Linked DNA regions of Homo sapiens. The protein of the gene in region 1 interacts with the protein of each later gene in a pairwise test. Each region holds a gene or a part of one and is shown in the gene's direction. Other genes may lie near its edges. The genes, in order: ZNF184, SOX6 and UBP1.

The links.
Region 2: the proteins of ZNF184 (region 1) and SOX6 interact in a two-hybrid assay, tested with the Homo sapiens proteins (one large-scale study listed by BioGRID and IntAct).
Region 3: the proteins of ZNF184 (region 1) and UBP1 interact in a two-hybrid assay, tested with the Homo sapiens proteins (one large-scale study listed by BioGRID and IntAct).

What each region holds. Positions count from the first base shown.
Region 1 is NC_000006.12:27,456,024-27,459,679, reverse strand, and holds part of ZNF184 (zinc finger protein 184), read left to right. Parts: intron 1-2,270; coding exon 2,271-2,397; intron 2,398-2,758; coding exon 2,759-2,854; intron 2,855-3,656. UniProt on the Homo sapiens protein: May be involved in transcriptional regulation.
Region 2 is NC_000011.10:16,045,437-16,049,092, reverse strand, and holds part of SOX6 (transcription factor SOX-6), read left to right. Parts: intron 1-1,770; exon of another isoform or gene 1,771-1,855; intron 1,856-2,391; coding exon 2,392-2,579; intron 2,580-2,802; exon of another isoform or gene 2,803-2,845; intron 2,846-3,656. UniProt on the Homo sapiens protein: Transcription factor that plays a key role in several developmental processes, including neurogenesis, chondrocytes differentiation and cartilage formation.
Region 3 is NC_000003.12:33,430,366-33,434,021, reverse strand, and holds part of UBP1 (upstream-binding protein 1), read left to right. Parts: intron 1-3,656. UniProt on the Homo sapiens protein: Functions as a transcriptional activator in a promoter context-dependent manner. Modulates the placental expression of CYP11A1. Involved in regulation of the alpha-globin gene in erythroid cells.

The sequences.
Region 1 (3,656 bases):
CTGAATAATAAATTCCTAGAAGTAGGAAGACCAGATCAAATGGTGTATCCATTAAAGTTTTGATAGATCTTGTCAGATTGCCCCCCAGATAGATTGCATTTGGGTTCTGTTTCCACCATAGGACACATGAGCACTTTAGCAGTGTTACCCAGTCTGATATTTTACTGTTTAACTATATTTTTAGGGGAGGGGAGCATCTTTTCATGGTTTCACATTTTCCTCGGTGACTTGCCTATTTGGGTTGTTGGCCTTTATTGTTGCTATTGTTGTGGGTAGTTGATCTTTTTTTTTTCCCTTAATTTTTAGTTGACATGTAATAATTGTACATATCCATGGGATACAGAGTGATATTTTGGTACGTGAATACAATGTGTAATGATAAAATCAGGATAATTAGCATATCCATCACCTTGAACATTTATCACTTCTTTGTGTTGTGAATATTCCGAATCCTCTCTTCTACTTTCTTGTAATTATACACTAAATTATTGTTAACCATATTCACGCTATAGTGCTATAGACACTGGAACTTATTCCTTCCATCTACCTGTAACTTTGTAACTGTTAGCCAGTCTTTCCCTAGCCTTCCCTCCTCTACCCTTCCCAGCCTCTAGTAAGCACAATTCTACTCTCTATGAGCTCGTTTTGTTTTTGTTTGCTCCTACATGTGAATGAGAACATGCGATATTTATCTTTCTGTGCCTGGCATATTTCACTTAACATAATGTCCTGCAGGTACATCCATGTTACCACTAATGACAAGATTTTATTCTTTTTTAAAATGGCTGAATGGTATTCCCTTGTGTATATATACCACATTTTCTTTATCCATTCGTCTGTTGATGGACATTTAGGTTGATTCTATATCTTAGCTGTTGTCAGTAAAGCCATAGCAAACATGGGGATGCATGTGTCTCTTTGGTATACTGATTTCCTTCACTTTGGATAAATACCCATTAGCGGGATTGCTGGATCATATGGTAGTTCCATATTTAGTTTTTTTGAGACAGTGCCAAACTGTTTTCCATAATGGTTGTACTAATTTACATTCCCACCAGTGTTGTATCCTTGCCAGCATTTGTTATTTTTTTTTTTGTCTTTTTGACTAACTGGGGTGAGATGATATCTTATTATGGTTTTGATTTGCATTTAGTGATATTGAGCATTTTTTCATATATTTGGGTGTTTATATGTCTTCTTTTGAGAAATGCCTATTCAGATACTTCACCCACTTTTTAATGGTATTATTTATTTTTTTGCTGTTGATTTGAGTATATTCTGGATATTAGTCCCTTGTGAGATGAATAGTTTGCAAATATTTTTGCCCCTTCTGCAGGTTGTCTTGAACTCTGTAGATTGTTTTTTTTTTTTTTTTTTTTTTTTTACTGTGCAGAAGCTTTTTAAATTGCCTTTTGTTTATGATGTCTTATAGATGTTTTACATTGTTATGTGGTTATATCTATCGATCTCTCTCTCCATCATGTAAATTTTGCCTTCCAGATTTCAAGCTTATACAAATATTTTCCTGTTTTTTATTCTATTTTATTTTGACTTTTTCTTTACGATTTCATCTTTAGGTTGGCAGGAATTTTTGTGTGTGTTGTGAAGTAAGGATCTCACCTTAATTTTTTTTTCATAGACAGTCGTTTGTTATGGCATGATTTAGTGACTAATCCATCTTAACTAATTTCACTTTTAACTTACTTTTAATTTAACTAACTTTTAACCAATTTGAAAGCTGCTTAATGCCTTTTAACTCTTATAAATATGAATCTGTTTCTGGATTTTCTATTTTATTTCATTTTGTTTTATTCCAGACTAGGCCATTTTTAAATTACTTTATCTTTTGAAATGTATTAGGGCAAGTCTTTCCACCTCTCTTTTTCAAAAAACCTTTGGGTGCTCTTGCACATTGTAGGTAGTAAAAAATATTGATGATAATAGTTAAACCATTAATACTTAGCGGACCTTGGAACACAGAGATGATGATGGTAATGATGACGATGAAGGACAACAACAATGGCCATATTGACTGAGCACTTATTATATGCCAGACGTTAAATTAAGCATTTCACATGGAATGTTTTATTTAATTCTCACAATAACCCAATGGATGAGGCACTGTTTTTACATTTATTTCATAAAGGAGAAAATGTCAAGATTATTTTGCAGACATCCTATAGACTGCCTTACTTCTGTCAGTATTGCTAACTTTACCCCTTTCCTAAGTAAATGCTTATGGCTAAGCAGAAATATGTTTGGTATTTCAGGAAGCGGTGACTTTCAAGGATGTGATAGTGGACTTTACCCAGGAAGAATGGAAACAGCTGGACCCTGGCCAGAGAGATTTGTTCAGGGATGTGACATTGGAAAATTATACACACCTGGTCTCTATAGGTAAGGATAATTTCTCTGAGTTAATATCAAGGGGTGTGCAGGAGGAGGGTTCTCTCTTGTGCTCAGGGGAGTTTGCCTTTAAGTTTAGTAACCAACCATTTCTAAATTTCTAGTTTTTGAAAAGGTTTCTACCATCCTAGCAAGCAGAGGGACAAAATAATAATTTTCCTGAACCCCGATCAGTTCCCAAATTATACTCCCACCATGTCTGGGAACTGGTAACACTAAAGCTTGATATGCTATCCACTCCCATCAGGTTTTTACTACATATCATTTCTTCTAAAGACAAAGTGGTGATTGAATTCTGATATGGTACTTTCCCCTTACTGCAGGTTTCTTTCTTTTTTTCCCTAATGAACAGGACTCCAAGTTTCTAAACCTGATGTGATTTCCCAGTTAGAGCAAGGGACAGAGCCATGGATCATGGAGCCAAGCATTCCAGTAGGTACCTGTGCAGGTAAGTCATGGATGCCAGCAGATGAATATCATTAACTCCGACTGTCAGCCTGATAAGAGAGGATTTTATGTCTGAAGTGTAGATGTACTTTCTTCCCTTTAAAGTATTTCCTGTGGAGAAATGGGAAAACATCTGTTTTCTGGACTTTCTTATGCTTTGTTATGTCACTAATTGTTGCAATATATATTCTATGTTATGCCCCTTTTTGAGGAGATGTCCTTCCTACCTTTCTATGAAATCCACCTCTCGAACTGGACTCTGAATTACATCTCTTTCTACTTCCTTTAGGACCATGATCTCATAATTATCACCGTACTTTTCAGTCCTTACAATTTTTTATTTTGGATCTACGGGCTCCATTCCCAGTACTTTTAAATAGAAATACATAACCTATATTTCCAAATAGATTTACTCCACAATATGAATCTTTATGGCCACCATTCAGTTTATCTTTTCTTTCCCAAGCAAACTCAACAAAAATGAATTCCATAACTGCAGGCTTCGTTTCTTTATCACCTAATTCTTACCTAGTAACATGTATAGCTTCTGATTTTTTTTTTCTTTTTTTGAAACAAAGTCTCATTCTGTTGCCCAGGCTGTAGTGCAGTGGCGTAATCTTGGCTCACTGCAGCTTCTGCTTCCCAGGCTTGAGTAATCCTCCCACCTCAGTCTCCCGAGTAGCTGGAACTACAGGTGCACGCCACCATGCCTGGCTAATTTTTGTATTTTTAGTGGAGACACGGTTTCGCCATGTTGCCCAGGCTGGTCTTGAACTCCTGGGCTCAAGTGATCTACCCGCCTC
Region 2 (3,656 bases), on another chromosome or scaffold:
AGTTTCCTAGTATTACTAGCTCATAGGTTATTATGAGGATTAAAACAGAAAAATGCATATTAAATGCCTAGTGCAGTTTAGAACCTAGAAGGCATTCAATTTAAAATGACTAGAATGAATGATTATCAATACATGTACATATATAAGTGGGATGAAACAATAAATGTGAAAGCAGTTGTCAGTAAGACAGTGCCGAATAAGCATTAACATTATTGTTACTATACTCTTTGTTTGGAAATTAAGTCTCTTAATTTGTTATACTCTTTGGAAATTAAGAGACTTAATTTCCAAACAGACACAGATTTAAAGATTAAAGGGACAAGACCTAGCATTTCTTCAGATTACCTTCCTTGTATTATTGAGTCCTGAAGTCTAAAATGCTTATTTCAATAGATAAAATAATGTATAAGAATAGCCATTAACAGCTTAAAAAACATTCTTGCCTACTTTATCTGATTTGATGTTTCACAATAATCTTATGAGTTAGATAGTATATTATTATGCTTATTGTACAAATACATACATTGTGGTTTTTACAGGTAGAATGAGTTGCCCACACTCCTGCAGCTGTTAATTAGCAGAAACAGGACTAGAATCTAGGTCCTCTCACATGTTACTCAAGTGTTCTTTTTGTAAACTCACAGTTAGAATATTTGCTAAATTGTGCTGAGTCTAAGTGAATCTTCTGATAGTGAGATGTTAATCTTCCTCAATGAATTTTGGAATATTGGATCTCTACAGGAGCATATTCTCATTTTGAGTAAGGATGTCTTTTTGGGACCTGAAAGTTTTCATGCCAAGTTAGTGATATCCATATAGAAGATAGAATTAAATCATTTCCAGCATGTGAATATGAATGCCCCTTGGCCGGATTTTTGGAAGTTGTGAGATGAGGGAAGAAAGCCAACAAGGAGATAAATTATAGAGTTGACCTTGAAATAGCCCTCCTAGAATTCACTCTGAAATTGTTTGGAAAGCATTTGTTTGCTGTCCTGAGTATCATGAGGGACAGAGATGACTGAGTCACAGGCCCTGCTTTTATGGAACTCTACTCAGCAGAGCATATTTCTTAGATCATGAGCTAGAAATGGGCTGAAGTAATAGCACCTGTGTTTGAACAGCACTCTCGTCCAGGTGATATTGGATAGAGATGTCCTTTTTACCAGAAAAGCTCCAAAATAAAAGCTGTGGGACCAAAAAGTGACTAACTTAAAAAAAAAATTCCATGTATAGCTTGGGAATTTTTTCCAAACTCAAATGCATATGCACATGCATTGTACACATCAGACATCCAGTATGAGCTTGATTCTACACTCATTTCTTCTGTCCTGCCTATGTGAGGTGTATACACACACATACACACACACACACACACACACACACACACACACGCTATGAAATGATTATACGAGCCCTCAAGCAAGTGGATCACACTAACATTTGTCACAGCAGATGAAACCTATCATCAAAAAATTGCCCTCTTTTTGTCTAAAATTGGAAAATCTTATTCAAAGTATTCATTTTACCCACAGTAAAATGCAAGATATCGTTGGAAATAAGTCAGTTTAATATTGAAGATTTTCCTTCTGTGTTGCTTGAAATACACTGGAAGTAAATATTTATTCTCACTTTTTTTTTGAAGCTTTGTAGTTATGCGAAAACCAGTCCCACACATATCGCCTCATTGTCATGAAGTGAGGGAGCTGATCACAGTGGGTGTTCGAGCTGGGGGTGGGGAATGGGTTGTCATTCTCTTGGTAAATAACTGAGGCAGCTTGATGAGAAGAATGCTTCATTAACCAGCCAGCAACTGGGGTACTGGAGAGTACGGTGAATTCCTTCCGCCCCCTCTTTCCTGCAGTGGACATATGAACACACAGATACAGATATCACTAAAGTACACATGTGGCCTCACAGATTTTTTTATTTTTTCTGCGGGCCAGAAATGACTGTGTTGTATTATCACAGCAACTATAATGGGTAGCCTGGACAAACATCTCTGCCTCCTGCCCACTCCTCAACCCCTTCCTCCCCATAATTTCCCCACAGAAGAGGCAACATTGTGCACCAGTTGTACATACAGGCAGAGCAAATACCTTCCCCCAATATGTATACAATTGGAGTCTAGGAACTGTAGTCTGTGAGGAGGTGAGTAGACAGAATCCAGGTAGGCTGGAGTGCTGGGGTTTTCTCCAAGGGCTAAAAGAACCCAGCACAGCTTGGTTGCCCTGGCTCTGTGTTCTATGTATATTAGCGTATAGTTTAAAAAATAGCAAATGTGCACCCCTTCCTTGTTCAGAGAATGCAGCTTTCTACAGGGGAGGGGATAGTAGTAGTACTTTTTAGGAGTCTGACCTCACAAGCATCTAATAATGCATCCTGTGTATGCAGATATCCTATCTAGTCTCAACTCCCCTGCCCTTTTTGGGGATCAGGATACAGTGATGAAAGCCATTCAGGAGGCGCGGAAGATGCGAGAGCAGATCCAGCGGGAGCAACAGCAGCAACAGCCACATGGTGTTGACGGGAAACTGTCCTCCATAAATAATATGGGGCTGAACAGCTGCAGGAATGAAAAGGTAAAACTGCTTCCTTGTGTCACTGGATCTGCTAGACTTATTGGCTCACTCTCATCTGGTTCTTTCCAGGCTCCCAGGTATCAACCTGCAGCCATAGATTTGGGCTTCCAGCTTGAGGGCTGTCTTGTACTTTACTGAAATCTGTCATGTAGCATCTGTAAGCATTATTGTTGATTAACAAATACGCCCTTTCCCACCCAGTGTAAGTTGCCTCCCAACCTACCTGCCTATTGGTGTTTTTCTGTCACATTCTGAAATAGATGTATCTTAAAATAAAGGAGATGTATGATGTTATTAGAATAAAAGTAGAGTACCAGAATATTAAAAAAGGAAGACACATATGTGTTTACAATGAAGACTAATATGTTACCATGACTCACCATTAAATGTAATACTAAACTTCCTGTCAACCAGGACAAAAAAATGAAGCAAAACAAAGCAATTTGCAAATTGCATTCATTTGGTTTTTGATCCAGCAAATTATTTATTGTTTATTCTATGATGGACTCTGTTCTAGGCGCTGGAGATACAGCAGTGAGCAAATCTGACAAAGACACCTGCTTTCCTAGAGCTTATATTCTAATAGGAGAACACAGACAATGAAGAAATAAACAATTAAATAGAAAATGTAATGGCAGGAAGTCAATAAATGCCGTGAGAAAAAATAGAAGCAAGTTAAAGGAATAGGGTGTTATAGGGCTGGCATGTTAGATGAAGTGGTAAGGACTCTCTGAGGAAGTGACATTGACATCTGAATGAAGCAACAGTCCAGGCCATATGAAAGGCAGGAGCAGGGGCATTCTAGGCACTAGGAATGATGAACATGCAGGCCCTTGGAGGATTAGACCAGCACCAAGGAGGCCAGTGTGGCAGGAATGGCACAAGAGACGACACAGCCGGGGATCATAAAGTAAAAGTGATAGGCTGGGCAGAGCTTATTATTACCTGGTACACCCTGGAAAGGCTTTTCATTTTATTCTGAGTGTGATGGGAATCCCTAGACTGATTTTGTCCAGGACATTGACATGATCTGATTTACATATAAAAGGATCATTCTGCCTACTGTGGAAGATTGGA
Region 3 (3,656 bases), on another chromosome or scaffold:
AAACGTTTGCTTTGGCTGGAAATACCATCTGATGCTTTTTTCTTTTTTTTTCTTAGCTGTAGGTTCTATGACTGATACTATTATTATTATTATTTTTAGAGACAGGGTCTTGCTTTGTTGCCCAGGCTGGAGTGCAGTGGCTATTTGCAGACTTGATCACTGCACACTACAGGCTCTAATTCCTGGGCTCAAGGGATTCTCCTGCCACAAACTCCCAAGTAGCTGGACCCACAGGTGGGCCACATGGTGCCCAGCTTCATGACTGAATTGAAAGGAGGCTCTGTATTATTTACTTTGCTTGTTTTGGGACAGATCTAATAGATGAATATGAAATTGTCAGCCTTTGGTGGTAGAGTCTTTTTTTTTTGAGATGTGGAGTCTTGTTCTGTTACCCAGGCTGGAGTGCAGTGGCACTGTCTCAGCTCACCGCAACCTCCACCTCCCAGGTTCAAGTGATTCTCCTGCCTCAGCCTCCTGAGTAGCTGGGATTACAGGTGCATGCCACCACGCCCAGCTGATTTTTGTATTTTTAGTAGAGGTGGGGTTTCACCTTGTTGGTCAGGCTGGTCTCGAGCTCCTGACTTCGTGATCTGCCCGCCTCGGACTCCCACGGTGCCCGGCCTATGGTAGTCTTTTTTTTTTTTTTTTTTTTTTTTAAAGGCTGGGTGCGCGGTGGCTCACACCTGTAATCCCAGCAATTTGGGAGACTGAGGTGGGTGGATCTCTTGAGGTCAGGAGTTCGTGACCAGCCTGGCCAGCCTGGTGAAACCCCGTCTCTACTAAGAATACAAAAATCAGCCAGGCATGGTGGCATGTACCTGTAATCCCAGCTACTCAGGAGGCTGAGGCAGGAGAATCGTTTGATCCCGGGAGGTGGAGGTTGCAGTGAGCTGAGATCGCGCCACTGCATTCCAGCCTGGGCGACAGAGTGAGACTCCGTCTCAAAAAAAAAACAAAAAACTCTGAGTTTTTTGGACATTGTGAAATTGTTGCCTTGATATGAACTATGACAAAACTAGTTATTACTCATTCATGTATTCATAGTTGAACTTTTAACTTAAAACTCTTCATTTTGAAATTTTTCAAGTTACAAAAGTAGTATGGAGAGTTCACATGTACCCTTCACCCAGCTTCTCCTACTTATACAACCAGAGTACTATTGTCAAAATCAAGAAATTAGACTTGGTGCAATACTGTTATCTAAATTACAAAATTTATTTGGAATTCACAGTTGTCTCCCTTTTGTCCTTTCAGATTCCAATCCAGGATTCTGTATTGCATTTAGTTTTTGTGTCCTGTAACAATTTTTAGTTTTTCCTTCTTTTATGATTTTGACACTTCTGATGTGTAGTGGTTAAAACTGTTTTAGAAACATGTAATTTTTTGGTGTGGGTGGGGAATGCAAAGATGAGACACACTTGTGAATGCTATTTAGCCTTGAAAGGATCTCTTATTTTTAGCAGTGATTTTGAGTAGAGTAGGACCACAGTTGCTTGTATTTGTTTAGTTACTACTTTGTCTCAATTTATCTAAATATAAATAGGATGCTGTATATGTTGTAGTAACTTCATAATGTGAAAGTATCAAGAAATTTGAAAACATTAAAAAATTTATTTAGAATAACAATTACAAACCATTGTGTTTTAACCAAAAAATTTTTTTAAATTAAAAAACTTTGCCAAAACAGAGAACTTAGCCAGAAGAGGGTCACACTGTGTTACCCAGGCTGAAGTGCAGTGGTGCAATCATGGCTCACTGCAGCCTCGACTTCCTAGGCTCAGGTAATTCTCCTACCTCTGCCTCCCTAGTAGCTGAGTTTATGAGTATGCGCCACCATGCCTGGCTAATTTTTTTGCTATTTTTTGTAGAGACGGGGTTTCACCATGTTACCCAGGCTGGTCTCTGGGCTCAAGCAGTCCGCCTGTCTCGGCCTCCCAAAGTGTTGAGATTACAGGTGTGAGCCACTGCACCCAGCCAGTTTTAACTTTCTTTGGATGAGTAAATGTTTGACTATACATGTAATTTATTTAATGGATATGAGAGTATTCAGATTTTGTTAATAGTGGTTGGTTCATGACCTTGGCTGTCAAGTATGTCTTTCCTGCTGCTCTGTAGTTTATACCATAACATTCTCATCCATTTCCTCCCCTACTCATCTAGAAAGCTTAATGACACCTCCTCAGCCTCACAACTCATCCTTGCCATGCCTATTTTCAACTGATTCCCTTAGTTATTTACTGGGAAAATGGAGCTGTCTTTTTTCGTTTTTTTTTTTTTTCTTTGAGACGGAGTCTCACTCTGTCGCCCAGGCTGGAGTGCAGTGGCGCAATCTTGGCTTACTGCAACCTCTGCCTTCCAGATTCAAGCAATTCTCCTGCTTCAGCCTCCTGAGTAGCTGGGACTACAGACGTGTGCCACCATGCCCAGATAATTTTTTTGTAGTTTTTTAGTAGAGACAGGGTTTCACCATATTGGATAGGCTGGTCTTGAACTCCTGATGTAATGATCCGCCCGCCTCAGTCTCCCAAAGTGCTGGGATTACAGGTGTGAGCCACTGCACCCGGCGGAACTTTCATATGCTGTACTGGCTTGTGAGTTTTTCTATGGTGTATTTAGGTGTGTATTTCTTATTTATTCTGGTTTGGTCATTTGGGCTTCTTGAATCCATGAATTGGTATATTTCACCAGTTCTAGAATTTGCTCAGCCTTCCTGTCTTCAGTTTTTGCCCCTATTCCGTTCTTTGCTGAGACTTGAATTTAATGCAAAATCTTCTCACTTGGTCCCTTCTTAACTTCTTCATTTTCCTCTCTGTGCTGCTTTCTGAATAACTTCTTTTTACCTATATTCCAGCATTCCAGTCTCCTAATTCAGTCTTCACTTCTGTCTGAGCTGCTATTAAACCTGAGTTCTTAATTTGGACAGTTTTATTTTCCAGTTCTAGAAGTTCTTTTTGCTCTTTTTCAGTTTTGCTGTCCTTTAAAGTTTCCTGTTCCTTCCAGATACTTTCAGGCTTTTCTTTTATTTCTTTAAATAGAGTAAGTACGATTTTATAATTTGGATCTGATAATTCCAGCATCTGAAATCTCTGGTGGTCTGTGTCCAGTCAGGAAAATAGAAATCAGTGAGATGTCTCAAGCAGAGAGGGATTTAGTGAAGTATTTGATTGCAAAGGAGCTGGAAGGGTTGGAGGAGGAGGCCATGTTACCTGGTTGTTCTTGGGCTTGTTGCTGGAGGCATGGCTGCTGATCCCCTGAAATTTTCCGCAGCTGCATTCCGTGTGGTTGCCTGTTTTTGCATCTGGCTTTTCCCTTTCCCGCTCTTTCAATTTTCCGCCAGTGTTTGCCTTTGGAGAGCCTGACAAGACTGTCTAGCAAGAATTCTTCTATATGTAGTTTTCAGGCTTCTAACCTTCTGCAGTAGAGGCAGAAAAGATCTGAATACCAGCAGACAAAATCTGGAACTGGATATATGTCATCTGTTGTTTTTGCTGTTGGTTTTTGCTTCTAGAGTCTTGTTTGTCCTTTTATGCCTGGTTATTTTGGTGTACTGGCATTTCAGAATTACTTGGAATAATTTGATGCCTAAGTCTTTTCACTTGCTTGTCAGACCCCTGGGAGCCCTACCTGTCAGTGGTTCCCCGGACCAGGCTGGAGAA